Linked DNA regions of Homo sapiens: region 2 is linked to region 1. The links come from fine-mapping of genetic effects on gene expression. A gene starts in region 1. The other region holds a variant in brackets. All regions are shown on one strand. Distances are between the middles of the regions.

What was found. PIP is the estimated chance that this variant, and not a neighbour inherited with it, causes the effect.
Region 2: its variant is the best candidate, but not a certain one, in a credible set for the expression of ZBTB1 in adrenal gland (GTEx, PIP 0.58).

What each region holds. Positions count from the first base shown.
Region 1 is chr14:64,502,986-64,505,883 of GRCh38, reverse strand. ZBTB1 (zinc finger and BTB domain containing 1) reads right to left here and starts at 1,114. Exons shown (of 2, transcript NM_001123329.2): 1 at 938-1,114. ZBTB25 (zinc finger and BTB domain containing 25) reads left to right here and starts at 2,046. Exons shown (of 3, transcript NM_006977.5): 1 at 2,046-2,223. RefSeq lists silencers at 805-914, 1,025-1,284, 1,885-2,314 and enhancers at 1,004-1,674, 1,775-1,864, 2,635-2,734, 2,795-2,898.
Region 2 is chr14:64,648,985-64,651,882 of GRCh38, reverse strand. No RefSeq gene overlaps it. Among named protein-coding and RNA genes, the nearest start is that of PLEKHG3, 54 kb to the left of the region's middle. The variant A/G (reference allele first, on the strand shown) is at 1,424.

The DNA of each region.
Region 1 (2,898 bases):
CTATTTCTTGTACTGATACATACCGTATGGAAATACACTAACACCAATGAAGAATCTGCGTGCACTGCCACACTGAAATTCGACTTAAGAACGTTATCACACACAAATGTCCTATCCCCAGAAAACGTCAAGGATTTTCATCAACCTCTTCCTGATTCGCCCAATTTAGAAAATGTCATGTCAACCCTTCAGATCATGTACACGCGTTGCTTAGGTAGAAAGGGAGACTGGGTGGGGTGGCTGAGCTCAGACCCTGCCTACATACTTTAGTAGTAACGACTCCCGATCTGCATCCAACACATTTACCGAACTTCTAGTAAGCGCCCACCGCTGCAAGCGAAAGCACTCCCTTCCCAAGAAACAGATCTTTTCCACTTAAAATTCCCAAACTCAGACCTTCCACTTTTTACTGAACAAAAAGCGTGTGTGCCGGCGAGAGGGGGTGGGAAACAGCGTAACAAGAATTTGCACGGATCTTACGCCTCCTCCCTCGGAGCGCGCCCAAGTCTGCAGCCTCGGGCTCCGGGACACTTCCCCTCCCACCCGCCGCCGAGCCGCAGCTGTAAGTTGAGAGAAGCGGGCTCTAGGCACGTCAATCAACCGGGTTCTCCCGCCTCCCGTCTACACCTCCCCTCCCCCCTCGAAAAAAATAAAGGCAGAGAAAGAAAGAAAAGAAGGTAACTAATTTGGGAACTAGTCTCCGTAGGGGCTTCGCCTCCGACTCAGGGAGGCCGCACGCCCGGGACCTGACGCGCCGGCAACAAGCAGGCGGCCTGGCAGCCGCCCGTCACCGGGTCCTCGCAGCGCGTCCGCCGCGCTCCGGCTCCCCGCACGGATCGGCGCCCCTCCGGCCCCGCACTCCGCCAGGCCCGCGGCCCGTCGCCCTCCGGCCTGGGCCAAAGTTGCGCAAATAGCCCCACAACTGGCAAATACTTACCGGCCGCAACAGGAACCAGAGCTGCGGAGATTTTAGGGAGTTTAAGGCAAATCAGCCGCGGGAAAGGCGGGCGAAGGCGAAGGGGCCGCGAGCTGCAGTGGCGGCGGCGCGCGGCGCTCGGCGCTCGGGCTGGGCTGCGCGGAGAGGCTCTGGCTCTGCCAGGGACTGTGCTGCAACAAAGGACTTCCGCTGCCGCACAGCCGCGCCTGCCGCACCGCACTGAGCCGGCCCCGCTTACGCGGCGACTCCGGGTCTGCCCACCAGTTCGCTGCGGCGTCCGCCAGCCTTCCCCTCCCTCTCGCCCGCCCACCCACTCTGCCGCTGGCTGCTAGGGGCACCCGCGGTCGCCTGTTTGTTGCAACAAGTTTCTGCGTCGAGCTCCGAGGAGGCTGGCGCAACCCGCACCGCGGGGGCCGTCGCGGCGGCGGCGGCTTGACCACCCCTCTTGCCCCTCTCAAGGGTAGGCTTGGGACCTCCTCCTCCTCCTGTTTGCACAGCTGGATGGAACTGGGCTCCTCCCGACTCCCCAGGGCAGGATGCGAGGCTGCTTTCCCACTCCGTCCAGATGTCAGACCCCTGCCCGTTGGGCCCAGCAGCTGGGCCGTCACTCGCGGTCCGCCTCGAGTGCTCCGGCAACCTCGCCCTGCCCCGTCGGTTCAGGGTCGCCCAGTCCCCGCGCCCCCCCGACCCCACCTTCCGTGGGCCTGCTGCCTCTGGCCCTGAGTCACTTCCCCCGCCATGCCCCACCTCGCCCAGTCCGCCTCTCCACCCAGGCTCCCGCGGCTCGGCCTCCCTGGCCCCGCGCCCTCATCCCTTCCCCAGCGAACACGCGGGCGCATCCTTCCCCACCCCCACCTTCACCCCAGAACTGAGGGGGTGCCTGTGCTTTTGCACACCCTGGGGAAAGTCCCCGGGTCACGCGGTTGTTTGTGGGGAGCCTGTGACGCTCAGGCTTGTCCCTATGCTTCCGCCTACAGAGTCACAACTGCGAACTGTGGCGGCGGCACTCAGAGCGCGGGCCGACCCCCGCCCGGCCACTGAGGCGGGCGGGCGGGAGGGCGCGCACGTACGCACGCACGCACGCACGCACACCCCGGCCCTGGCGCCCCTCTTTCCCCTGCTACCAGACACGCGGTCACGTGGGGCCATCGCGGGCTGCCGGCGCGGGAAGCCGCGCGAGAGGCGGCCGAGGGGTGCGTGAGCCGGCGCCACTGCTTGCAGTGCGCGGCTTGGGAGCCCGCCCCTCCTGCACGGAGGAGTCGGCCTGCCGCCGCGGCGGCATCTGGGTAAGCGACGCGGTCCTGCCCCTGTGGGCTGCCCCGGGCTCAGTCCCTCCTGCCGCGAGCCACCCAGGGCGGCGGCCTGCAGCTGCACCAGTCGCGGGACAGATGCAAGTAGCTGGGGAGAGGGGTGTTTTTGGTCCGATTGAGATGTCAGGCAGGGCACAGGAGGAAAATACATCCGCGAGTGAGCGCTGGGCCGACAATACCCAGAACCACCCTTTGCTGCTCGTAGGAGCGGCTGCCGGGGCCTGATTCAGGGTGGCACACGGGGTGCCGCGAAGGTGCAGAGCCGTCCCGGCCGCGGGTCCGGGTGCGACCCCCAGCAGGAAACCCCAGTAGGCCTGCGGCCTCCCTCGGGTAGCGCCGACCCCTCTTACGAGCGGGCGACTTTCCAGATGCTGGGAGGACGCTGCGGCTACTGTTTCCACTCCCAGCTTGTGATTACCTCGTTTCTAGGGCAAGAAGACATCCCCCCCTTTTCTATCTTCAAATTATGTTTATCTTGTTCTAAGCATATCCGGTTTTTCTTTTTGAAGCTTGACCCATCTTATCACCGTCTTCTCTGGCACTCAGTATTTGGAGTAATCAGTTGTTACCAGTTGCGGAGGCAGCGCATAGCACAACGTAGTACCTGGAACCTGACGGCACCTAGCATGTTTCAACAGTTAGCGCCCGCAT
Region 2 (2,898 bases), 150 kb before region 1:
AAAAATTAACTGGGTGTGGTGGCACACACTTGTAATCCCAGCTACTCAGGAGGCTGAGGCAGGAGGATGACTGACTTGAGCCCAAGAGGTCAAGACTGCAGTGAGCAGTGAGTGTACCACTGCACTCCAGCCTGGGTGACAGAGTGAGACCCTGTCTCATACAAAACCCCAAAACTCAGATTTCACTGGCTCTTGCCTTATCTGCTGAAGCCAGACCTATACCTGCAATCTTCTGTTAATCAACCATCCCACACATCCCACCCCCATAGAAAAATAAGAAGTATGTTTGTGAATCATGAGAAGAGGGACCAGTCTCACGTGTATGTGTGTGTGTGTGTGTGTGTGTACAAGACTGTTCTCCCTGAGTGCTGTTTTGCTCTCTCACCCAGTACTTCCTATGGTTTTCAAGATACCACCATCTCCTGCCAGGAGATGGTGTTGCCACTGGAACTCGTGCCCCTGCCAAGCACCAAAGTCTCCCATGGGCCATGGCCCACTTTCCAGCTATTCACCCTGCAGAACTCACTGGACCAAAGCTGGAGCTGCTCTATGTTGAAGTGGTAGCAAGATGCTTCTCTCCTCTCCAATGCACTGCCCTTGCCCTGGAGGTCTGTAGAGATTTTACTGAGATCTCACTTTTTACTCACAGCCATCTCTCTCCTTAGGTCTCAGACATGTGTCCACAGGTTGGGCAGGGACAGAATAAAAATATTTATATGTTGTCATCAGGATTCTCACTAACCTTTAGTGACCCAGAATTTGTGACTGGGCTAGGCTCAACATGGCTACAGGCAGCTCTAGGCTCATATCATGTCAGTTTGGCCATCCTAAGGAGGGAGAGGACTTCTTGCTTTAGAAGACGTAACTCCCAATAAAGAGCTCTGATTGGCTAGGCTTGGGTCTCATGCCTGCCTCTTGGGCTGAAGTGAGGGGGAAGAAAGGGAACTGTGATTGGCAGCCTCATCAGGATCACCTTCCCCAAGGGAAGGAGGCCTGCACTAACCCTCAAATGTGGGTAGGTAGCAAGGGAGGGGGAGAAGCTGGTGGATAAAAACAACAGCTTTCAGGCTAGGAGCAGTGGCTCATGCCTGTAATTCCAACACTTCGGAGGCCAAGGTGGGAGGATTGCTTGAGGCCAGGAGTTGGAGACCAGAGGCCAGGAGTTGGAGACCAGACTGGGCAACATAATGAGACCCCTATCTCTACAAAAATAAAAATAAAAATAAAAAAATTAGCTGGGTGTGGTGGTGCAACTGTAGTCCCAGCTACTTGGGAGGCTGAGGCAGGAGGATCACCTGAGCCCAGGAGTTCAAGGCTGCAGTGAGCTATGATCATGGCACTGCACTCCAGCCTGGGCAACAGAGCAAGATCCTGTCTCAAAACACACACACACCCCAATAAAACAGCTTTTTGCTGTACCCCC[A/G]TTTCCAGACCTGCTTAGGCAGCAGTGGCCCCAGCAATCCCAGCCATTCAAGGATACAGTCGCTGCCTCTGCGGAGCTTGCTGCACCCAGACTCAGGCTCAAGTGCAGCACCTTGTTTGACTCGTCCAGTGCACACCTTCCTGAGACGAGTTCAAGGGGCGGGCTGCAATGACTTCTGCACCTACATTATCATCCTTCTTCTAAATTCCCCTGAACGTTCCCCTCAGAGTTGCCTTCCCCTGATTCGCCCCCGATCTGTTCCAATTCTCCAAAAGTTGCTCCCACAGAATGAACTAAAAAAGCATGCGCAGATGCATAATCTCCAGCCCAGTCCTCAGCTTTCTCAATCAGCTGTGGTCATTTTAGGTCGGGGCGCTCTGGAGCCCAGGTGTTATCAGTTCACGTAACGCAGGTGTGGCAGCCTCCCCCTTCCCACCTCATCCCTTGTCCCTTTGAGGTGAGCAGAGAATTGCTCTTTCCTGACCAGGGACATCTTCTCTGCTGACCGCAAACTATCAGTCCTGTGCTGCCACCACCCCCGATGACACAGGGGCTGTGACATTTCACCAGTGTCCCTTTAGGATGCCTGACGGGGTTTTCTCTGTGAACCTGCCTTGCTATCCTCCCCAGGGGGCTGAGGTGATGTCAGCCATCCTTTGTGGATGGCCAGGTGGTTCTTCGAAGATCCGGTGCCGTGGGAGGAGCAGGAGTTTCAACTACACAACGCTGTCATCGCCTCAAAAGCAACATAAGGGGAGAGAGTTGCTGCACAAGCTGCCCAGGGCTGCAATAACAAAGTACCACAAACTGGGTGGCTTACAACAGACATTTACTGTCTCACAGTTCTAGAGACAGGAAGTCCACACTCAAGGTCCCAGCGGGGCCATGCTCACTCACTCGGAAGGTGCTCGGGAGGGATCTGTTCCAAGCCTCTCTTCCTTGGCTCTAGTTCCTTGGTGTGTGGCAACATCACTCCCATCTGCACGTGGTGTTCTCCTGTGGACATGTCTGTGTGCAAATTCCCCCACCACCCTACCCTTTTTTTTTTTTGATACAAAGTTTCACTCTTGTCGCCCAGGCTGGAGTGCAATGGCACAATCTGGGCTCACTGCAACCTCTGCCTCCCGGGTTCAAGTGATTCTCCTGCCTCAGCCTCCTGAGTAGCTGGGATTACAGGTGCCCACCACCATGCCCAGCTAATTTTTGTATTTTTACTAAAGAGAGAGTTTGACCATATTGGTCAGTCTGGTCTTGAACTCCTGACCTCAAGTGATCCGCCCACCTCAGCCTCCCAAAGTGCTGGGATTATAGGTGTGAGCCACCACACCCGGCCAATTTCCCCTTCTTAGAAGGACACCAGTCATAGTCAATTAGAGTTCACACTAATGATCTCATTTTAACTTGTTTAACCCTATCTCCAAAAACAAACAATACAAAAAGACCCTGTCTCCAGATAGGGTCACATCATGAAGTGC